Linked DNA regions of Homo sapiens. The protein of the gene in region 1 purifies or fractionates together with the protein of each later gene. This does not show direct contact. Each region holds a gene or a part of one and is shown in the gene's direction. Other genes may lie near its edges. The genes, in order: SLC35F3, SNX25, NPTN, RANBP2, GNPTAB, SLMAP and SEC62.

Region 1 (2,168 bases):
AACCCCAGCCCACCTGGAACAAAATCATACTGAGGAGAATCCTGTGGTCCAGGGAAGACCACAACACTGCCAGACAGAGGAGGGTGCCCCCAGGCCCTGCCCACTCTCCAGGGACATGCCCCCAACCCTGCAGCTGAGAAACCTCCATGCTCTGTCTCCCACAGTGATTGATCACTACACCAGTCAGATCGTCTTCAATGGGGTCCGGGTCATCGCCATCATCATCATCGGCCTGGGTTTTCTCCTCCTGCTCCTGCCAGAGGAGTGGGATGTCTGGTTGATCAAGCTGCTCACCCGACTCAAAGTGAGGAAGAAGGAGGAGCCTGCAGAGGGCGCTGCCGACCTGAGCTCAGGACCTCAGAGCAAGAACAGAAGAGCCCGCCCTTCCTTCGCCCGCTAACACCACTCCTCTAGAACTCGGTGGTAATGACTGGGAGGTCTATTCCTGCCGGGAGGAACCTCAGTTGGGTAAGGTGTACATACCTGTACAGTTTTGGTCATCTGCGGTAAGTTCTATGGTATTTATTGGCATGTCCAATTTGCTTGCACTTTTCCACATCAGACCTTCCACTTAAGGGTACCAATTCAATACAAAAGAGAAAAGAAGAACCTCTCAGTGCTTTTCCAACGAATGTAAAGTGGGTTTAAAAGTTCCCTGCGTAGATCGTTTTGGATGGCTGACGTTCTTGACAAGCCAGCCATCAGGGCAAGTGTTTTGAATCTTAGCAAGTGTTTTGAATCTTAGCAACTGAACATGACATTGCACACTGTGATTATTTTTCAGCTATGGTAGGTCATATTTTGTTTTATACCAGAGCTGTACTCTTAATTTTAAGGAATTTCAATGAACCAAAAGATAACTGTCAATTTATTTGGATGGATGGATGGAGGGATGGAAGGAGGGAGGGAAGGATGTCTGGGATGTGAAGAGGCAAGGCAGAAATGGATGATGAACATCAAAAACTGTCAGAGGACAGGTCTGTGCCAGGTACCAGGAAGGACAAGATAAGTCCAAGCCCCGGCTGGCCTGCTCTCACGTGTCTGTGTAAGATCATGCAAGAGAAATCACAGTGCCTTCTACAGAATTTTCGTCTTTACCTATGTGAAGCGAGGTGACGTGATACGTCACTGGCGCCGTCTTATAATTTAGATGTAAAAATCTTTAGAAACAAATAAAACTCTCTATATATGTGTATGTCTGTGTACAAAAAAATGACAGAGCTGATGGCCAGTGTATACAGAGCGTGGCCCGCGGTGTACAATACCCATATAAGGTACATTGTGCAGGAGGGGAATTGCTGGCTGCTTTTACTTCCTGACCAAGACTGAAAAATTATTTACTGAAATCTGTAAACCTTTTTATGAAACTTTTAAGCACCAGGCTGTTTACTTACACAATTTAGGTCTGCCAGAAAATTCTATCTGTGATAGATCTGTAAAGAGGGTCAGGGGTTAGAGTTTACTATTTTTGAAGTTTACATTGTTACATATGAAATGGAAACATTATTTTGAAACGTTGTCATAACCCAATGGTGCATTCTGTAACCATGGAGTCTTCTGTTTCCTGGGGGAAAGGGGCATTCATGACCTGAACTTTTTAGCAAATTATTATTCTCAGTTTCCATTACCTGTTTGGCCAAACAGATTAATAAAATATTTGAAAAAGAAGCGTTCAGTGCTGTCTCCATGGCCATTCTGTTACTTTCCCACTGCACCAGTCCTGAAGCAGTCCTCACCACATTCTGGCTTTTCCTCAATTGCACTTGCCCCCAAGAACCTTCAGGGTGGGTAAGCCAGCCCATCTGTCTCAAGGGAAGGAGACTGTAATATCGATAGAATTGACTTTTGCAAAAGTGAAATGCAGAAGCATCCCCAAAGCCTCACAGAAGCTCTAAGTCCTGGGGCAGCCTCTCCCTCCTCCACTTTTCCCCTGTTCCTCTCCCTCTCCCTCAAGGCACCTGCCCTCCGCTCAGCCCTGCCTGTGGCTTCCTTCTCACTTTTTCTTCTGAACGGGATCCGCAGCTCAGTTTACACTGGTCTCTAAGTGCCACCTAGAGCGGCAGCCCCAGTCCATAAATCTACCCAGTCTTCCAGCTCAGCCCCCACAGCCGCCTGCCTGCCTTGGGCATCCTAACTTAATGCTGGCATTTTCAATAATTTGATTGCTC
Region 2 (3,500 bases), on another chromosome or scaffold:
AAATTCATTATTTTTTAATTTAGTTTTTTCCATAGGTTGCACAATCATATGATTTTAAAAAAAGTGTACAGAAAGGTATACAGTGAAAAAACATCTTCCCTCTAGGCAGCCACTATTAACAGTTTCTGTTTATTCCAGATATATTTGACATACATATAGGCACATACACACATGTATTCAAAAGGAGAAGTTTTTGATACATATAATATTGGTATGTGAACAGTGATTACACATAAAGGAAAGTTTTTCTCTGTATAATCTGTCGTGATGGAACTATTAAGATCAGTCAGCATAAGATGAAGTTGTATATGAATAGTGATAACTTCAAAGTGTGAAGGTACAATGCATGATTAAACCTGGGACAAAAAACAATGCTAATCAAGTGTACCCAGGAAATGACAAAAGTGTGTATTTGGTTTTTTTTTTTTTTTTTTTTTTTGAGATGGAGTGTTGCTCTTGTTGCCCAGGCTGGAGTGCAGTGGCACAATCTCAGCTCACTGTAACTTCTGTTTCCTGGGTTCAAGCGATTCTCCTGCCTCAGCCTCCCGAGTCACTGGGATGATAGGCGCCCGCCACCACGCCCGGCTACTTTTTGTAATTTTTAGTAGAGATGGGGTTTCGCCATGTTAGCCAGGCTGATCTTGAACTCCTGACCTCAGATGATCCACCCGCCTTGGCCTCCCAAAGTGCTGGGATTACAGCTGTGAGCCACCTCGCCCGGCCGACAAAAGTGTGTATTTGAATTTAGCAAAATCATCTAAAGGAAGCAATATGTGTTCTTCTAAGTTTTAAAAACCAACAAAATGGGTCCAGAGTACATGTACCGTTTGAGATTTGACTTACCAGTGAGTATATGAGATGACTCATAGGAGCTAGGATTAGAAAGGTAGTGTTGGCCAGGTTGTGGAAATGCCGTGGAGTAGAACTGAATTTTAGTCTTCAGGCATGGTCACTGTTGGCATTTTCTGAGCCCAGGAGTGATAGCATCAGAGCTGGGCTTTGAAACGTTGAATGGATATGTGATTGGGGTGGACTTAAAAGGAGAAATACTGGCCGAGTGCAGTGGCTCACGCCTGTAATCCCAGCACTTTGGGAGGCCGAGCCAAGGTCGCACCACTGCACTCCAGCCTGGGTGATAGAGTGAGACTGTGTCTTGGGAAAAAAAAAAGAGAAATACTGTGTAGCTGCAATGATAAAAAGTGAGAGTTAATGAAGCTGTGTGAATGGAGACAACAGACAGTACATTCAAAAGTGAGTGAGACTTTTCTTTGATACAATTCTCATTATTTATCATTACAATAGGTTCAAGAATATTCTCAGGAGGGTCCTAACATTCCTTTTAAACAATAAATTCAACCCCAAACCAAAGGATCCCACAATATATAGCAGCAGATGTATCCTAGGAAAGTCTTCCAAGTTGAATGTTCTACTTGGCACCTTCTTAATTCTGGTCATTCCCAGGGGATTTATTTCTCACTCTTGAATCTTCAGCTGCTTTTGTTTTTGAAGCATACGATGTCACATTGGTAATGGTAATTGACTGTTGCCTTCCTAAAAATATCTTAGGCTTCGTTTCCCAACCATATCATTTTGGGGATAGGAAGTGCCCTAGATTCCTTAAAATGTAGGATTCTTTATAGTCAGAATGGTACACGTGGTTGTGCTAAAAAGGTGACGCAGCAAGTTTGGTGCCGAGCGTTCAGGACACAGAAAATGCACAGTGTCTGTGGAAGGCTGTTAGGACTGAAATAATTGCATACCACCTTGCCAGCATTTTTAACATTGCAACTGTACTTTTGAAGGAAAAAGATTGCAAACTCAGAACCTGTATTTTTATCCTTCACTGCTGTAGGTCACCTATGCCACCTAGGTTGCTTGGTTGAATGGGGATGACAGGTAGGTAGGCAGCCCTTCGCAGGGGCACTCCTGGATACCCTAAGGGCCGGGATTTAGGTCTAAGTCACACCCTGCTTTAGTCTAGGAGTGTGTGCTTCTATAGTTTTTTGAGGCGGAGTCTGGCTCTGTCACCCAGGCTGGAGTGCAGTGGCACAATCCTGGCTCACTGCAACCTCTGCCTCCCGGGTTCAAGTGATTCTCCTGCCTCAGCCTCCCAAGTAGCTGGGATTACAGGCGCCCGCCATCAAGCCTGGCTAATTTTTGTATTTTTAGTAGAGACGGGGTTTTGCCATGTTGGCCAGGCTGGTCTCGAACTCCTGACCTCAGGCGATCCGTGCCCCTTGGCCCCAGAAAGTTCTGGGATTACAGGCATGAGCCACCACTCCTGGCCTGCTTCTGTAGTTTTTGTAAGTATGGTGGAGCTTTCCAGAAATCCCAGCAGGTTTGCATGTATGTTGGTGGGCCTCTCAGCCCAGGTGCTGCTTTGGGAGAAGGCAGCTAGGTGTGTGAGGTATGCCTGCTTTGCCCCTGCAGCTAGCCAGCACTCAGCAGCCACTCTAGGCACTTGCCAGTCCTGGTATGTTTGTCAGCCCAGGGTTTCTAGGTATGAGTAGCCACAAGCTGGATGTAAAGAAAAATGAATATGGTAACTCCAAGTAAAATGCTTCTGAAGCAAAGAGGGGAGCAAGGAATTGTGCATCCTTAGGATAAGACACATAACTTGTTTATTAGGCTACTAGGATCTATTCAATAGACTTCCTATTTTAGTGTAGAATATACCTCTTGGAAAATTAGATAAATATTTTACAAATACTCATTGCTACAGTAACCTGAATTTCTGTAGTTCTCACCCACCTGTATATACGGGTGAGTTTACATAAATTAAACTAATTTTAAAGTTTTTTTTAATGAGGTTCTGATCTCATACAGAACCTCATCCTCTTGCAGTACTCCTACCTTCTTGCTCTGCCACCCCATCAGCATTTCTGGGAGCCCACAGACAGTGTCCCATGTATTTGGGGATAATCTCAACTTACATTCTTCCATTCCTGGTGCTTGCAAAGCACTGGAGAGAGGTCCCTGTGCTATGCCGCCACTGCCAGTCTGTGAGAAAGACGTTCCCTGTTGGGGTACTCCTGTCTCAGTCCTCCAGAGCTGAATGTCTGGAGGGCCTTGGTCCGTCTTTCGGGGTTTATCTAAGCCAAGGCCACATGTATGCTTTATAGAAGCTGGCAGGCTAGCCCTGTTTCTCTCACTTAGGCATGTTTTTAAAAAATGTTTTTGGGCTGGGTGCAGTGGCTCACACCTGTAATCTCAGAACTTTGGGAGGCTGAGGCAGGCGGATCACAAGGTCAGGAGATCAAGACCATCCTGACTAACATGGTGAAACCCTGTCTCTACTAAAAATACAAAAAATTAGCCAGGTGTGGTGGTGGGCGCCTGTAGTCCCAGCTACTCAGGAGGCTGAGGCAGGAGAATCGCTTGAACCCTGGAGGCGGAGGTTGCAGTGAGCCAAGATTGTGCCACTGCACTCCAGGCTGGGACGACAGAGCAAGACTCCATCTCAAAAAAACAAAAAAAGAAAAAAGAAAAAATGTTTTCTT
Region 3 (3,500 bases), on another chromosome or scaffold:
ACTTCAAATTTACTAGACAGTGAAATATAAATGAGATGGTATGAAATCACTCTGAAAGTATTAGGGTTGGATATATTATGTAAGTTTCTATAATTAGAAAGCATTAAGTCCCAAATCGTACCAATAGTTTTAATCATATCTAAATGGATACTCACATACTAAATGTGATTAAATATAAAATGCATAACGAAATGTCACATCCTTTCCTGATAGAATACTAATAAGGCATAGTATTTCATGTGCAGGAAGATACAGGAAAACACACAAGTAAGAGTTTGTTTTGCATATATAAATTGTTATGCCTTTGAGATTCTTTTCTTCCTGATGGTAGGATTTGGAAACCATTGGACTAGATGATGTCTAAATTTCCTTTCAGTTCTAAAAATTACTAAATATCTTGCCCTTATAGCTTAGATACTGTCTCCAATAGGTTAAAGGCTCAGAGATGATAACACTTTCTGTTTAAAAGTTTTTAGAAACTTACTTTTGAATATAATGAAAATTAACTTTGAGGCATGCACTGTTTTGAAATCTAAATGCCTCTAAATCTACTTCAGACAACCCTTGCAGTTCTTGTTTCAAGGGAGGCAGAACCGTGTCTGTTATGCAGAGATCTTATATTAAACTTGCTGGGAAAATTGCCAGTGTGAATAAAGAAGTGAATATTCCTGCCAGGTAGGTAGGTATTTTATGATCTTTCTGTTGGCTGAAAGTGGTTGACTAATAAAGAGACAATGAAACACACTTAACTATTTGTATTTTTATGTTATCTTTCGAGAAAGTTTGTTTTCTATATATGAGTTAGTTTCTGCAGTCCCTTATGCATTTTTTAAGACCTGGAAATCCGTCCATTATAGTCGAAGAAGGCAACCCCAAGTGTTAACTGAATTAAATCCTAGCAAGTTCCTTGATTGTTATTCCTTAGAAACATTGTGTTTAAAGGTCTCAAGTTGTAAACATTCATGGTACTACTTTGTTATCTGTTAGGTCCATTTCTTTTCCTTTTTTTCTTTTAGATCTTTAGAATTTCAAACATGTACAAAAATAGATTAAGTAATGAATAAACCCCTGTGTATTCATCATCTAGTTTCAGCTACACCCTTGCTACTTATTAATTTAAAAATAACCTAAAAATTACATTGCAAACTAGAATTTTCTAGGACCTGAAATGTAGTCAGTAGGGGTTAGTTTATATGAGTAAAAGATAATATTTGGTTCACATGTAATCATGTTGAAATTACTTGAAAAATAAAGCTCTTGGCCGGACGCGGTGGCTCACTCCTGTAATCCCAGCACTTTGGGAGGCTGCGGTGGGCGGATCACGAGGTCAGGAGATCGAGACCATCCTGGCTAACACGGTGAAACCCCATCTCTACCAAAAATACAAAAAATCAGCCAGGGGTGGTCGCCGGCACCTGTAGTCCCAGCTACTCGGGGCTGAGGCAGGAGAATGGCGTGAACCCGGGAGCCGAGAACATGCCACTGCACTCCAGCCTGGGTGACAGGGCCAGACTCCGTCTCAAAAAAAAAAAGCTCTTTAGAAAAAGGCTTTCAAACTTTTTTGTCTGTGACCCAGATAGAGAAGTAGTTTTTGACTAATAGAAATTTATAACAAAATTACACAAATATGTAATATCTTGTGAAACATTACCTATTATTAATCTGTGTGAGGTAGTTAAGAGAACCATAGTGACCTTCTAAATTGAATTCACAATTCATGGGCCGTGAAACTCAGTTTGAAAAACAGCATTTTCAGGTATGGAGTAGTTTGGGGCTTTTGTTTATTTTTTACATGCCATGTTAGTCTGGAATAATTATGATTTTTGTTAACACAAGGATTTTCACTAGACATTTATCAGTAATATCAGCATATACTGTTATTAGTCATTATGAGTAAAGAAAATAAAACATTTTGGATTTATACATTAGCCATTATATATAGCGATTTTTTTTCCTTTTAGAACTTTAGAAAAAGGGGAAGCCACAGTAATTTGAATATAATCAAGACATAACTTTTCCAGTATATTCAGTTGACCTTCCTTTTAAATTAGACCTTGTGTTCCTTATTCCTGAGCCTTTGAGTTTGCAGGGCTGGGAGTACTAATGTTTATTCTAAGCCAAATGCTTTACTTGGTTGCTGTAGTCTGAGGCACATTTCTGTTGAGTACAGATTGACTTGAATACTGGCCAAGGGAAGAGAGAGAGAGGGTAAGCAGAACCATCACTAAAGAATCATCTGCCGTTCATGTTTAAGATCCTAGAGTAGTGGGATTATTTCCTAGTTTTTAGACACTGCTTCCTGGAGGAAAAAAAGGCAACAAGATGTCCTCCTTTGTTGGCAACTATCTGTGAAAAACTTCTAAATTCATAGATTGAAGGAATGTGTTAAATTTAACTTGGGATTTTTTTGATTATACGAGTTTAGCAGGTTTGGGAATCATTGCCGAACAACTGGAAAAAAATAGCACAAGGAGCTCCAGCATTGAAATTATATTCATTAATGCTGAATCTCAAATCGTGCATCAAGGGAGATGAAATAAATGGCCTTAATGCAAACCAGGAAACTGCTACCTGGAAAAAAGCAAGTATAAAGAGGTTTCAAATAGCTTGCAGTGAACTGTCATTGAATTACCCTTACACAAATAACATAGTGATCACGTATCAAAAGTATGGTGCTAACCTAACAGCATTACTGTTTTCTACTAGGATTGAACTCCAAATAAGAATACTTTCTAACCACATTTTGGAAGAGACATAGAATCTATGTTGATGGTAGCTTAAGATTTAGGAGAAAAGCCTGAAGGAGCTAAACTTAGGAACAGGGAGCACTAGGGGGATGTGATTATCTATTAATACTTTCAAGGTAGCAGTGTAAATGAAGTAAGGGAATTAGGCAGTCTCCAAAGATGGATGGGCTGTATCAAAGAGCAATGGCCTAGAGCACAGGGAAGAAAGCATAGGTTTAGTATTAAGATGATTTTAATGAAACTAGCGGAAGAATAGAGTTATTTGCACTCATCGTCAGAACCATTATAAGTAGGACAAAGAGCTGGTTGAGAGGGTACTCAAAAACAGAAATGATCTCTTTCTTACATAGTACTGTGCTTGTTTAGAAGCTCAATGAGAGAAAAATATGGAAATGAATATGAAATGAAATGGACTTTTCAAAAGTTAGTGTGTTTTTCTGTTGTTTGTTTTGTTTTGAAACAGGGTCTCACTCTGTTGCCTAGGCTGGAATGCAGTGGCGTGATCATTACTCACTGCAGCATCAACCTTCCAGGCTCAGGTGATCCTCCTGCCTCAGCTTTCCAAGTAGCTGGGACCACAGGCGCATACCTCCATGCCTGGCTAATTTTTGAATTTTTTGTGGAGATGAGGTCTCCCTATGTTGCCCAGGCTGGTCTCAAACTCCTGGACTAAAGTGATCCTCCTGCCTGTGCCTCCCAAAGTGCTGGGATTACAGGCATGAGCCACAGCCCCCCTGCCAGCCAGAAGTTTTT
Region 4 (3,500 bases), on another chromosome or scaffold:
GCGTCAAATCAGGCTGTCAGAATTGTAAAAGAACCCACAAGTCATGATAACAAGGATATTTGCAAATCTGATGCTGGAAACCTGAATTTTGAATTTCAGGTTGCAAAGAAAGAAGGGTCTTGGTGGCATTGTAACAGCTGCTCATTAAAGAATGCTTCAACTGCTAAGAAATGTGTATCATGCCAAAATCTAAACCCAAGCAATAAAGAGCTCGTTGGCCCACCATTAGCTGAAACTGTTTTTACTCCTAAAACCAGCCCAGAGAATGTTCAAGATCGATTTGCATTGGTGACTCCAAAGAAAGAAGGTCACTGGGATTGTAGTATTTGTTTAGTAAGAAATGAACCTACTGTATCTAGGTGCATTGCGTGTCAGAATACAAAATCTGCTAACAAAAGTGGATCTTCATTTGTTCATCAAGCTTCATTTAAATTTGGCCAGGGAGATCTTCCTAAACCTATTAACAGTGATTTCAGATCTGTTTTTTCTACAAAGGAAGGACAGTGGGATTGCAGTGCATGTTTGGTACAAAATGAGGGGAGCTCTACAAAATGTGCTGCTTGTCAGAATCCGAGAAAACAGAGTCTACCTGCTACTTCTATTCCAACACCTGCCTCTTTTAAGTTTGGTACTTCAGAGACAAGTAAAACTCTAAAAAGTGGATTTGAAGACATGTTTGCTAAGAAGGAAGGACAGTGGGATTGCAGTTCATGCTTAGTGCGAAATGAAGCAAATGCTACAAGATGTGTTGCTTGTCAGAATCCGGATAAACCAAGTCCATCTACTTCTGTTCCAGCTCCTGCCTCTTTTAAGTTTGGTACTTCAGAGACAAGCAAGGCTCCAAAGAGCGGATTTGAGGGAATGTTCACTAAGAAGGAGGGACAGTGGGATTGCAGTGTGTGCTTAGTAAGAAATGAAGCCAGTGCTACCAAATGTATTGCTTGTCAGAATCCAGGTAAACAAAATCAAACTACTTCTGCAGTTTCAACACCTGCCTCTTCAGAGACAAGCAAGGCTCCAAAGAGCGGATTTGAGGGAATGTTCACTAAGAAGGAGGGACAGTGGGATTGCAGTGTGTGCTTAGTAAGAAATGAAGCCAGTGCTACCAAATGTATTGCTTGTCAGAATCCAGGTAAACAAAATCAAACTACTTCTGCAGTTTCAACACCTGCCTCTTCAGAGACAAGCAAGGCTCCAAAGAGCGGATTTGAGGGAATGTTCACTAAGAAGGAAGGACAGTGGGATTGCAGTGTGTGCTTAGTAAGAAATGAAGCCAGTGCTACCAAATGTATTGCTTGTCAGTGTCCAAGTAAACAAAATCAAACAACTGCAATTTCAACACCTGCCTCTTCGGAGATAAGCAAGGCTCCAAAGAGTGGATTTGAAGGAATGTTCATCAGGAAAGGACAGTGGGATTGTAGTGTTTGCTGTGTACAAAATGAGAGTTCTTCCTTAAAATGTGTGGCTTGTGATGCCTCTAAACCAACTCATAAACCTATTGCAGAAGCTCCTTCAGCTTTCACACTGGGCTCAGAAATGAAGTTGCATGACTCTTCTGGAAGTCAGGTGGGAACAGGATTTAAAAGTAATTTCTCAGAAAAAGCTTCTAAGTTTGGCAATACAGAGCAAGGATTCAAATTTGGGCATGTGGATCAAGAAAATTCACCTTCATTTATGTTTCAGGGTTCTTCTAATACAGAATTTAAGTCAACCAAAGAAGGATTTTCCATCCCTGTGTCTGCTGATGGATTTAAATTTGGCATTTCGGAACCAGGAAATCAAGAAAAGAAAAGTGAAAAGCCTCTTGAAAATGGTACTGGCTTCCAGGCTCAGGATATTAGTGGCCAGAAGAATGGCCGTGGTGTGATTTTTGGCCAAACAAGTAGCACTTTTACATTTGCAGATCTTGCAAAATCAACTTCAGGAGAAGGATTTCAGTTTGGCAAAAAAGACCCCAATTTCAAGGGATTTTCAGGTGCTGGAGAAAAATTATTCTCATCACAATACGGTAAAATGGCCAATAAAGCAAACACTTCCGGTGACTTTGAGAAAGATGATGATGCCTATAAGACTGAGGACAGCGATGACATCCATTTTGAACCAGTAGTTCAAATGCCCGAAAAAGTAGAACTTGTAACAGGAGAAGAAGATGAAAAAGTTCTGTATTCACAGCGGGTAAAACTATTTAGATTTGATGCTGAGGTAAGTCAGTGGAAAGAAAGGGGCTTGGGGAACTTAAAAATTCTCAAAAACGAGGTCAATGGCAAACTAAGAATGCTGATGCGAAGAGAACAAGTACTAAAAGTGTGTGCTAATCATTGGATAACGACTACGATGAACCTGAAGCCTCTCTCTGGATCAGATAGAGCATGGATGTGGTTAGCCAGTGATTTCTCTGATGGTGATGCCAAACTAGAGCAGTTGGCAGCAAAATTTAAAACACCAGAGCTGGCTGAAGAATTCAAGCAGAAATTTGAGGAATGCCAGCGGCTTCTGTTAGACATACCACTTCAAACTCCCCATAAACTTGTAGATACTGGCAGAGCTGCCAAGTTAATACAGAGAGCTGAAGAAATGAAGAGTGGACTGAAAGATTTCAAAACATTTTTGACAAATGATCAAACAAAAGTCACTGAGGAAGAAAATAAGGGTTCAGGTACAGGTGCGGCCGGTGCCTCAGACACAACAATAAAACCCAATCCTGAAAACACTGGGCCCACATTAGAATGGGATAACTATGATTTAAGGGAAGATGCTTTGGATGATAGTGTCAGTAGTAGCTCAGTACATGCTTCTCCATTGGCAAGTAGCCCTGTGAGAAAAAATCTTTTCCGTTTTGGTGAGTCAACAACAGGATTTAACTTCAGTTTTAAATCTGCTTTGAGTCCATCTAAGTCTCCTGCCAAGTTGAATCAGAGTGGGACTTCAGTTGGCACTGATGAAGAATCTGATGTTACTCAAGAAGAAGAGAGAGATGGACAGTACTTTGAACCTGTTGTTCCTTTACCTGATCTAGTTGAAGTATCCAGTGGTGAGGAAAATGAACAAGTTGTTTTTAGTCACAGGGCAAAACTCTACAGATATGATAAAGATGTTGGTCAATGGAAAGAAAGGGGCATTGGTGATATAAAGATTTTACAGAATTATGATAATAAGCAAGTTCGTATAGTGATGAGAAGGGACCAAGTATTAAAACTTTGTGCCAATCACAGAATAACTCCAGACATGACTTTGCAAAATATGAAAGGGACAGAAAGAGTATGGTTGTGGACTGCATGTGATTTTGCAGATGGAGAAAGAAAAGTAGAGCATTTAGCTGTTCGTTTTAAACTACAGGATGTTGCAGACTCGTTTAAGAAAATTTTTGATGAAGCAAAAACAGCCCAGGAAAAAGATTCTTTGATAACACCTCATGTTTCTCGGTCAAGCACTCCCAGAGAGTCACCATGTGGCAAAATTGCTGTAGCTGTATTAGAAGAAACCACAAGAGAGAGGACAGA
Region 5 (2,980 bases), on another chromosome or scaffold:
TATATAAGCATTTCACTAGTCCTAGAAACAGTCAGTCAGGTGTGAACCAAGGATACAGCCTAGGCAATAAAGAAAAAGCAATAGACGAACTGGGAGACACTTTAAAAGGGAAATTGGCAGACCCTGGCACTAGAACTCCTCGGTATCTTGGAGTTGGGCAAATGAGACAATTAGGATGAATATTGCTGCTATCTTTATGTTTTTATTTTCATAAGGAGAAGTTATTACTGAATCATGGGTCTTGTCTCCCAGAAATGGCAAGGAATGGCTTCTCACCGTTTTCACTTTCCCTTAACTCAGAGGAAAAAGATCTTTAGGTGGTTCTAAGTGTTAACTCCCCAAATTCAATTTGTGACTAAATTTACCCTCAAGGGTCCATTTGAATAAGAAAGAAGTGGGCTTAAAAGTAATTTGAGAGGACCTTGATTTCTGTGCTGTACAAATGGTGTGAATCAGGTGTGGGTGCTCTTGCAGTCATTCCCCTGCCCTGGAGGTTGCTTGCTCCTCATCCTGCTTAGTTCTGCATTGTCTCTCACTGCACTGACACTAGACATTAGTTGACAGAGCTGGTTATGATCCTATTAACAGAAGTGGGAAATACAGGGGGAAGAGCTGTGTGTGGGCGAGTGCCGTTTTGGATGTGTGACTTGAGGTAGAGACGCCCAAACAGTGGAAAATGAGAATCTGTAACTCAGCACAGAGGCCAGAGTTTGGTAGTTACTAGCATATCTTCCAAACCTATGGTAAGCATTTTTATTTAATCTTCGTAACCAATTGTTCATTATTTCCAAATTACAGATGAGGAAATGGCTGTACTGCCTCTTTTTATCCTCAGTATTCTCTTGGCTCCAGGTCCAGTTGATTCTACCTCAGGAATGTCTCTTCTGTTGCTTATTTCTTTTCATTGTCACTGCTTCCTTTCATGCCTGGACTAAAACTAAACTGCCTGCCTTCCTTGTTTGTCCATCCTTCAAATGGCCAACATGTTTACCCTGATTATGTCACACATACCCCCACCTGTCTGTTTCATCCACTTTCCCACTAGAGTGTTCTGTCCAGACCCCACGGTGTGGTTTTGCAAAGCAGCTGCAGTTCATACCCTCTCGCCTTCACCTGGCTTAGTTCCCCCCATGCTGCCGCATGGATTCACTCCACTCAGTCCTGTAGGGCCCAGCTGGCCACCGTGCCACTCTACTGCTCCTTCTCTTTCTCATCCATATGCTTCCTGTCCCCTTCAAGGCTTACAGGAAATGCCACCATCTCTGTGGCACTGTCCTCATTTCTCTAAGTTTTTCACATGACTTTGCTTTTGATAATGCATATTTCTGTGTCTTATGTGATGGCAAGTCATCAGTCAGCATGTCAGCAACGCCTCAGTTTTCTAAACACTTAAAAGCAGGGACTTCATCTTGTTCATCTCTCCATATACGCAGGAAGTATTTATCAAGAAACTGAGTGAATAAATAAGTATGAGTGAATAAAAATGAATGAAAGAGTGGTTTTGTTTAAGTGCCAGAAGTAATTTTCTTTTGAAGTCCTCTCTCCTGCCTGGATAACTTCACTAATTCAAGTATAATATTTACTATGACATAATAAAAAATCTGAACTCGTGTTGGAAATGTATATTGTGTGAGCATTTTAGAATTGCAAGACAATGTTTTTGTGTTTCCCAACATTGTTTTTATAGAACTAGTATATAAATAATGCTTAACTAATGGTAGTGAAACCATATACAGAAGTACATAGTTGCTTTCTTCTCTCTGCACAGGAGGGCTTATCGAGACAAATTGAAGTTTTGGACCCATTGTGTACTAGCAACATTGATTATGTTTACTATATTCTCATTTTTTGCTGAGCAGGTAAGTTTTATATATTTTATGTGGGTATTAAATGGTATTTCTTGGTATACTAGCATCTGAATGTTTTAGAAAATGATACACATTTACAATCAAAATTTTAACTTCTCTTATTGTCTTATAGCTCATATGTGAATATGTTAAATATGTTTCACAATATTCAGGCAGCAAATATAACAGTCTTTTATTCATTTCTCTTCTAAATCCATTACCAGTATTCTTTTTATCTGGAACTCAACAGATTAACTTGTAGATATCAGGCTAAAACCAAGTAGCTCTAAGTATTTATAACCAAAAAACCATCTAGAATCCTTATCTAATGTTAATTTTCTATGGGTCTCCAATTTTCTTCCTCTCTTTCACGCTTCCTTGAGTGAGCACAGTGTCTTCAGACATCCCACGGTTCCGTTGTGTTGTCCCACTCACACCAGTAGCTCCCATTTATCTTTCTTTCAATCGCTAGGAGTTCTCCCTCCTCTCTCCTCCTTCCTCCTCTCCTTGTCAGCCCCTCTACACCTGGGCTTTCCTCTGCATGCATGTACACACGCAGCCTCCTTGAGGTGAGTGTCCAGAAGTCGGAGGGAGATTTGTGAGGTAAAGAGAAAGGGATAAGAGAGTCCTCATTAGGCTATTCACATATCAAATACTCTGAAGAAAAAGGATTGAAGGAGGGGAATGGGCATCTTTACCAACCTGACTTGGGTGTGGCAAGTGACTTGGCCTCTGCCTCCAATCAAGGTGACTATTGAGTGGAGCTTTTCTAGCTGTCACTCAAATGAAACGTACACCAAGTTGACTTATACCAAGAAGGACAAGCACCTAAGTACTGAGAGCTTCAGGATAAATGAATGGGCTTCTTGCTGTAAATGGAAGGAAATTCAGGAAACAGAGACTGGGCAGGTGAACAGGACAGCAACTTAACCTTCATCTGCTTTCCAGGGATTGTACATCTTGTTCTTGATGTCTGTTACCATTGTTCCTGGCAGGTAAAAGTCTTATGAAAAATCTCAGAAAGGCTGTACCTGCTTTTAGAACAGGGTCCAGTGAGAAACCTTTGAGTCTGCTGTGCTGACCTAGGATGGGGAAGGAAAGGAGCCCTGACTCAAAGGAGCAGCCATTAATGG
Region 6 (3,500 bases), on another chromosome or scaffold:
TCCATGTTGGTCAGGCTGATCTCAAACTCCCAACCTCAGGTGATCCACCAATCTTGGCCTCCCAAAGTGCTGGGATTACAGGTGTGAGCCACTGCGCCTGGCCTATTTTTTTTTTTTTTTTAAAGAAAATTCAAGGGAAGATTGTCCAGTACTCTCGTATTAGACACTTAGAATGGAAAAAGCAGAGGTGAAGATTTGGAGTTGGTAAGACTGTCACTTTCTGAGTTATGTCGTGAGTTCCTACAGAGGGCCTTTGGATAGGAAATCTGTTTGAGCTACTCTGCGTCAGCACTTTGAGCTTGCTGGTATATGTATATATTGATGGCTGGTGTAGATATATTGCCATCTAATGCTCAGAACACACTTGTATTGCAAGAAAATATTTTTTTGCTTGTTTTTTTGAGACATAGTCTTGCTCTGTTGCCCAGGCTGGAGTGCAGTGGTGATCTTGGCTCACTACAACCTCCGTCTCCCGAGTTCAAGTGATTCTGGAGCCTCCCAAGTAGCTGGGACTACAGGTGCATGCCACCATGCCCAGCTAATTTTTGTATTTTTAGCAGAGATGGGGTTTCACTATATTGGCCAGGCTGGTCTCAAACTCCTGACCTCGTGATCCACCCACCTTGGCCTCCCAAAGTGCAGAGATTACAGGCATGAGCCACTGCACCTGGCCTCAAGAAAAATTATATATCACGTGGAATAGGATAGTAGTCTCTGCACTGATTTTCGTTGATAATGGCTGTTCTTCTTATCACCATTTTGCTATTTCTTTGTCTGGGCTATTACAGGGTTATTACAGAAATTTCCAGAAAGACCCCTGCCTGTCGAATGTTTACTTCAAGCTTGAGCTCCTGGTATATTATGAGGAAATTATATGATACCCCAGGAGAGGTCTTCCTTTCCCATGCCATTGTAAAATTCCTAAAGTAAAATTAATTTGCCTTCTTGTCAAAGAAGGAGCCAATGTTGTTTTAAAATTTTAGCTTGAGAGATAGGTGGGGAAGAAATTAAATAGACAAGTAATCACTATTCAGAAGAGAAGGGAGAGTCATTGTACGAGGCCCAAGATACTTGCCCAAAAATATCGCAGAGAAAAACTAGTCTTTGGGGTCCTATTTTTTGAGTGGAACATTTGAGTTATTTAAAATTAGAATTTTATTTTGGTCAGATTAGAATTTCTAGGGTATGTCATATGTGTTTTTAAATTGAAAGCTCTTAAAACTCCTATTGTAGTTTAATGTCATTATCCATTAATTTACATAAATCTGATTTGGATCTCTATTTTCATCGTAGACTGTGTAGGGGCAATTTTTCCTAAAGGTTCTGTGACATAGTGCTACCTTTTTTTTAAAACCTGTCTTGCCCAGGCATTATTGAGTGCCCCCTGGTGCCAGCATGTGTATTTCACGACTGTATCAACAAATCATGATCATCTTCTCTGGCCATTGTGCCCTTTCAGATTCCAAACTTGTTACCTCTCAGTCCTTCCTACAAACTTAGAAAGTCTAATATCTTAATGTTTACTTATGTAGCAACCTCCCTTTCTCCCATCCCTAAATCCTCTTGTAATTAATTATTTTCCTTTGGAACTTTTTAAATCTACAATTTCCTTATAATATGGTAACCAATATTAATTTTCTTGTTCTGCGCCAAGTTTGATTTTATACAAATTGTTTCCAGTTTGGGTCATGAGCACAAAACCAGGTATTTTTAAAAATCTATATAACCCTTCAATGAGGCAGTATTAATTTTATTAACTCATTAATTCAACCAATAATTCTTGATTGTTTACTGTGTTAGATATTGGGGTATCCCCAATACCTGACAGCTGTGAGCAAAACAAATGCCCTACACACATGAGGTGTACAGTCCAGTAGAAAAGATAAACAATAAGCAAATTAATAGATAATATGATGTCCAATAAGGACTTCAAAGGAAAATAAAGCAGAGTAAAGAGCCAGAGAATGACAGTGAGCTGTTTTTCACATGAGTCATCAGAAAAGGCCTCTTTAAAGAATTGACATTTGAACAGAAAAACGAATCAAGGGCGTCAACTGTTTATTGCTTTTATTGCTTACCATTTGACCAAGCAATTCTACACATAGGATTCACCCTAAAAAAAAAAAAAAAAAAAAAAAAAAGGATTGTATATAGTGTTTAAACACTGAACAGCCTAAAATGTCAAAAATAAAGGGTTGGGCAAATAAGTTATATATACTATAACTATTTTTTTGTTGAAAGAGTTTCATCAACAGAAGGATAGGGAACACTGCATTTATTGTGATCACTCCCTATTTAATGTTTGTTTTTACATGTTTATAAATGCATAGGAAAAAATCCAGAAGGAATATCAGAAGTAATTTTCTGTGTGTTGGGGAGATGAAGATCACTTTGGTTTTTTTTTCCTCTTTGCTATCTGTATTTTGACGCTTTCTGCATCAAACGTGGATTGTTTATACACTTTAATCAAAAGCAACAGCTCTGACAACCCAGGTTATGCATTAGCTACAATCCTGTATGGATTATTCTTTTATTCTAATGGGCCAAGAAAATGATGGATATACTTTTGCAGCCCAATTGCAGAGGTTACACATCGATACTGAGAATCTCCGGGAGGAGAAGGACAGTGAAATCACAAGTACTAGAGATGAATTGCTTAGTGCCCGAGATGAAATTTTGCTCCTTCATCAAGCAGCAGCAAAGGTTGCCTCTGAGCGGGACACTGACATTGCTTCTTTACAAGAAGAGCTTAAGAAGGTGAGAGCTGAGCTTGAGCGGTGGCGGAAAGCAGCGTCTGAATATGAGAAAGAAATCACAAGTCTGCAAAACAGTTTTCAGCTTAGATGTCAACAGTGTGAGGACCAGCAGAGAGAAGAAGCAACAAGGTTGCAAGGTGAATAAATGTATTTTACATAAAGCTGTTAACTTTTGACAATGATAACTTCTTAACTTGTTTAAAAAAGAAACATGCAGGCTTTTTTTTTCTTTGTTAGCTATCAGTTGTATAAACCAATGTTTTTAAATCGGAGCTAAAAATGTATTTTCAGGTCTGCAAGTTCTACTTAAATTTATATTTTTTTACGGTTTTATATTTTATTTTAAAATTGTTAAAAATTGCTTGTCTTATAAAAGTGAAGTGGAAAAAAATACTATTGTTCAAGTACAAGCTGATAGCAGTCCTTGAGGTATACATGCAAAGTAACAGGAATCATATAATTAACCATGTAAAATCTACTTGCTTTTAAGGGGGCAAAAAGTATGTTCTCCTCTGAAATCTTTTCCTTTATCCTTTGAAGTATTATGGAAGTTATATTTCTGTATTAACAAATATGTTTTGGGACTATTTTAGGTGAACTAGAGAAGTTGAGAAAGGAATGGAATGCATTGGAAACCGAATGCCATTCTCTAAAAAGGGAAAATGTTTTGCTATCATCAGAACTGCAACGGCAAGAAAAAGAATTGCACAAGTATGCAAGAACTCTCTGTTTTTCAGATATAAA
Region 7 (3,500 bases), on another chromosome or scaffold:
AACTAATAATGAATATTAAATGATTTTTCTTCAGTCACAGTGAGAGCATCTTGCTTTGTGGTTGAAATAGGTAGTGTATGTCAGTCTTTGCTTTAGGCTGTTTCTCATCTAAGTGTTTGAATTAAAGATGTTAAATTTTTCTAATTGTGAAAAATATGTTTTCTGTATCGACACATTTTATTAAACTTGGCTTGATTGCTTCTTTATAGTAGTCCCTGTAAGTGGACATAAATGTGGCTATTTGATGTTAATGCAACTATGTCAAGGCTGCAATCACTTTAATAGTTTCTTTTTAGCAAATAAATGTTCATTGATGAAGTGCCTGGGTATTTTCCCGTCCCATTTGCAGAGCTCTACTACTTCATTTCCACAGTAAGCATATATATAATGATCACTTCTGAGTTTATCACCAGTAACATTGATACCTATTTTGGGGTATAAACATGGTGTTTTTCAGAAATAAAAATTATTTCATTAACCTTTACTATTACTGTGATAATACCCAGGCACTCAATATTCATCCTGAAATTTTTTATAATATATGTAATTTGTCTAGTCTTAAAGACATTTGGAGCATGGCCAACAGGAAGGTCAGCTTCTTACTGATGTGTGTGGATTCTTACAGAATGTTAGTACAAATTTTTATAAATATTTGGTGATCCCTGGGGGGAAATATCATTCTTACTATGGTTAGAAAGTGAATTAGAAATTTCAGCTCAGTTTCTATTTTACTATTCAAGTTGTGTACTTTAAACAAATATAAAAATCAAAAGGCTGCCTCTATTACAATCCTCAGTGGAATAGATGGCTATCTTTCTTGGCTAACATTAAATATTCTTGTACCAGAGCATGGAAAATCGTTTATAATTGTTAATAGAATGGCGATTTTTTTTTAAGAACTTCAGATTTGCTATGCTGCTGTAAGTAGAAAGCATGAAGCTTTTTGATCATGTAGGGCTTATTGTAGAGGGTATCAATTGGCCTAACTAAGCAGGATTGAATTTACCAGAGGCTAAGTTCAGATAGTAAGAATAATGCATATGTGATTGTTCTTAAAGTCAATGTATTAAATAAGGTATTTTTCCTTTTCCCTCTTACTGGATTTTTCAATTTTCAAACCATATGGCCTAGGTAACTTTAATTGAAATAATATAGATTTAGTTGAATACTATTCAGGAAGTAATAAATTTTAATATATCACATTGAAATTATGCAGTGGTGATGAATTTTGGTGTTTCCCCCCTCTTTCTGGTTTTACATCATGAGGATCAGTTAGCTGCTGACAAGAAAAGTCATCTTGTGTCTTTTGTAAATTGAATTTTTTTTTTAAATCTATTAGGAACTGGAAAACAGCAAGTATGGTTGATTCTCATTATTCAAGGTAGTTACGTTCTATAAAGTCACTGCGAACACTGAATTAGCAAATATAGAACCTAGGGGAAATACAAGGCTAGATTTCTGCAAGCCACTGGTCACATTTTCATCAAGCAGTCAACATGTAAATTTCTGTTGTAAAGACACCTTATTTAATATAATCGATTCATTAACATTGAAGTCATGACCAACAACACTGTAACTCATGCCTGAATGAAGCTTATCTGACACATAAGCTTCATAAGGCACACAACAGCCTTTTTACCCTTAGGAACAGCTTTTTGCCCTTAGCACTATGCTTGGGGGCCATTTTAAACAGTGAAATCAAAAAAAGAACAGAAATGCAAAAACCATGGCATTAGCGTAAAAAGGACACGTTTATAGTATGAAAGCTGGAACATGGCCTTGTTCAACCTCAGCTCAGAATATGTGTACAGCAAGTTTTTTGCTGTACCACAAAATTTTAGGTTAGGCAAATTCACAAATACGGAATCCATGAATAACGAGGATCAACTGTACTTAACTATATTTTAAAGCTGTGACATTTATCTACCTGGTTTATGGAATAGAATTTATTGCTGAATCATGCTCCAGTATTTGAGTGATGTTTTAAATATCCTATGTCTGAAAATAATTCCTCCTAATTGTGTGGTAATTTGCTTTTACTGTTTCCACAGTATTTCAGGTCTTTGCTCATTCACTCAGTAATACTGAGCACTTACCATGTACCAGAATTTTACTAGGCACAACCATGAATAAAAATACAATTCTCTTGCACCATTAAATAGTGTGTTAAGTGCTACGGCAGCAAATTGCTACATGTGCTGGATATCTCTTGTTTTCCCCTCCAGCTCCACTCTGCTCTTGCCCACAAAGCTGACCCGAATGGACCACAGCAGTGGGCTCCTATGCCTCCTGGCTTCTGAGTGGGTTTGGCCAAGGAGTGTCCTGGCCAGAGATCAGAGGATGGTAGGGTGCCTATTCTCGGCTCTTCTCCTGGGGTTGGGGGGCTGCCTTAGCAGCCAAAGGTCACTTCTCCCAAACTCCTTCCCTGCTTTCCAGGTTGCCAGTCCCTGCACTCTTCCTTTCTGGCCAAGGATGATGTCAGTTCTGCTGCTACTAGCCTGGAGTTGCAGAAGCTACTGTGCTTCCTCTTTGGGTAGCCTATACCTATACTTATCTCCTCATAATATCTTCATGTAAAGAACCATCTGTTTCTTATTGGAATCAAGACCAATACCAAGGAGAAATTCCTAGGGAACAAAAATTCCAATGAGGAATTGACCTCTTTGTCAGATCCTTATCACCAAACATTAGAAAAGATCTCATAACTTTATACAGCATGTTGTAAGCATTTTGATAACTAAAATCCTGTTCTAGTGAATGTCATGCAGATAACTACACAAGGAGATTAATTTAAATTTGCCTTCTTTGGCAAGCCCTTAAACCAATGGCTAAAGCAGTTAGTTGTGAGTTTCTGAGTAGGTCCCAATGCGTTTATTTCATTTGTCCAACCTAGCACAGAGATCCTTTGATACTTTAATTGCATGGCTTTTCCAATCAGACGAAATTTCAGTCTGAGAGAGGACATATTTTCTGAGGTTTATAGTTTTAGGATTGTCCAAAAGGCCTATGATCTCTTCTTAGCATGACAGAAAGAGGGAAAGATAAGTTAAATTTCAAGGGGGTCATATCATCACACTTTGGTCTTATTTCATTTTCAATGATTTCCTAGATCACTTTAACTTTTTTGTGTCATGGACTCCTCAGAATAATGGGTTTTTTTTGTTTGTTTGTTTGTTTGAGATGGAGTCTCACTCTGTCACCCAGGCTGGAGTGCAGTGGCGAAATCTCAGCTCACTGCAACCTCCGCCTCCTGAGGTTCAAGTGATCCTCCTGCCTCAGCCTCCCAAGTAGCTGGGATTACAGGCACATGCCACCACACCCAGCTAATTTTTGTATTTTTTAGTAGAGACAGGGTTTCACCGTGTTGGCGAGACTGATCTTGAACTCCTGACATCAGGTGATCCACCTGCCTCGGCCTCCCAAAGTGCTGGGATTACAGGCATGAGCCACCATGCCTGGCCAGAATAATGTTTTTAAATGCAGAAAAGGAAATGCATGGG

What was found.
Region 2: the proteins of SLC35F3 (region 1) and SNX25 purify together in Homo sapiens (affinity purification with mass spectrometry; one large-scale study listed by BioGRID and IntAct). This does not show direct contact.
Region 3: the proteins of SLC35F3 (region 1) and NPTN purify together in Homo sapiens (affinity purification with mass spectrometry; one large-scale study listed by BioGRID and IntAct). This does not show direct contact.
Region 4: the proteins of SLC35F3 (region 1) and RANBP2 purify together in Homo sapiens (affinity purification with mass spectrometry; one large-scale study listed by BioGRID and IntAct). This does not show direct contact.
Region 5: the proteins of SLC35F3 (region 1) and GNPTAB purify together in Homo sapiens (affinity purification with mass spectrometry; one large-scale study listed by BioGRID and IntAct). This does not show direct contact.
Region 6: the proteins of SLC35F3 (region 1) and SLMAP purify together in Homo sapiens (affinity purification with mass spectrometry; one large-scale study listed by BioGRID and IntAct). This does not show direct contact.
Region 7: the proteins of SLC35F3 (region 1) and SEC62 purify together in Homo sapiens (affinity purification with mass spectrometry; one large-scale study listed by BioGRID and IntAct). This does not show direct contact.

The regions. Positions count from the first base shown.
Region 1 is NC_000001.11:234,322,844-234,325,011, forward strand, and holds the end of SLC35F3 (solute carrier family 35 member F3), read left to right. Parts: intron 1-164; coding exon 165-400; 3' UTR 401-1,668; downstream 1,669-2,168. UniProt on the Homo sapiens protein: Mediates thiamine transport.
Region 2 is NC_000004.12:185,216,098-185,219,597, forward strand, and holds part of SNX25 (sorting nexin-25), read left to right. Parts: intron 1-3,500. UniProt on the Homo sapiens protein: May be involved in several stages of intracellular trafficking.
Region 3 is NC_000015.10:73,623,390-73,626,889, reverse strand, and holds part of NPTN (neuroplastin isoform b precursor), read left to right. Parts: intron 1-3,500. UniProt on the Homo sapiens protein: Probable homophilic and heterophilic cell adhesion molecule involved in long term potentiation at hippocampal excitatory synapses through activation of p38MAPK. May also regulate neurite outgrowth by activating the FGFR1 signaling pathway.
Region 4 is NC_000002.12:108,764,482-108,767,981, forward strand, and holds part of RANBP2 (E3 SUMO-protein ligase RanBP2), read left to right. Parts: coding exon 1-3,500. UniProt on the Homo sapiens protein: E3 SUMO-protein ligase which facilitates SUMO1 and SUMO2 conjugation by UBE2I. Involved in transport factor (Ran-GTP, karyopherin)-mediated protein import via the F-G repeat-containing domain which acts as a docking site for substrates.
Region 5 is NC_000012.12:101,747,980-101,750,959, reverse strand, and holds part of GNPTAB (N-acetylglucosamine-1-phosphotransferase subunits alpha/beta precursor), read left to right. Parts: intron 1-1,768; coding exon 1,769-1,859; intron 1,860-2,980. UniProt on the Homo sapiens protein: Catalyzes the formation of mannose 6-phosphate (M6P) markers on high mannose type oligosaccharides in the Golgi apparatus.
Region 6 is NC_000003.12:57,909,809-57,913,308, forward strand, and holds part of SLMAP (sarcolemmal membrane-associated protein), read left to right. Parts: intron 1-2,078; exon of another isoform or gene 2,079-2,113; intron 2,114-2,330; coding exon of another isoform or gene 2,331-2,383; exon of another isoform or gene 2,384-2,572; coding exon 2,573-2,893; intron 2,894-3,349; coding exon 3,350-3,467; coding exon of another isoform or gene 3,468-3,500. UniProt on the Homo sapiens protein: Associates with the striatin-interacting phosphatase and kinase (STRIPAK) core complex, forming the extended (SIKE1:SLMAP)STRIPAK complex.
Region 7 is NC_000003.12:169,994,307-169,997,806, forward strand, and holds part of SEC62 (translocation protein SEC62), read left to right. Parts: 3' UTR 1-3,500. UniProt on the Homo sapiens protein: Mediates post-translational transport of precursor polypeptides across endoplasmic reticulum (ER). Proposed to act as a targeting receptor for small presecretory proteins containing short and apolar signal peptides.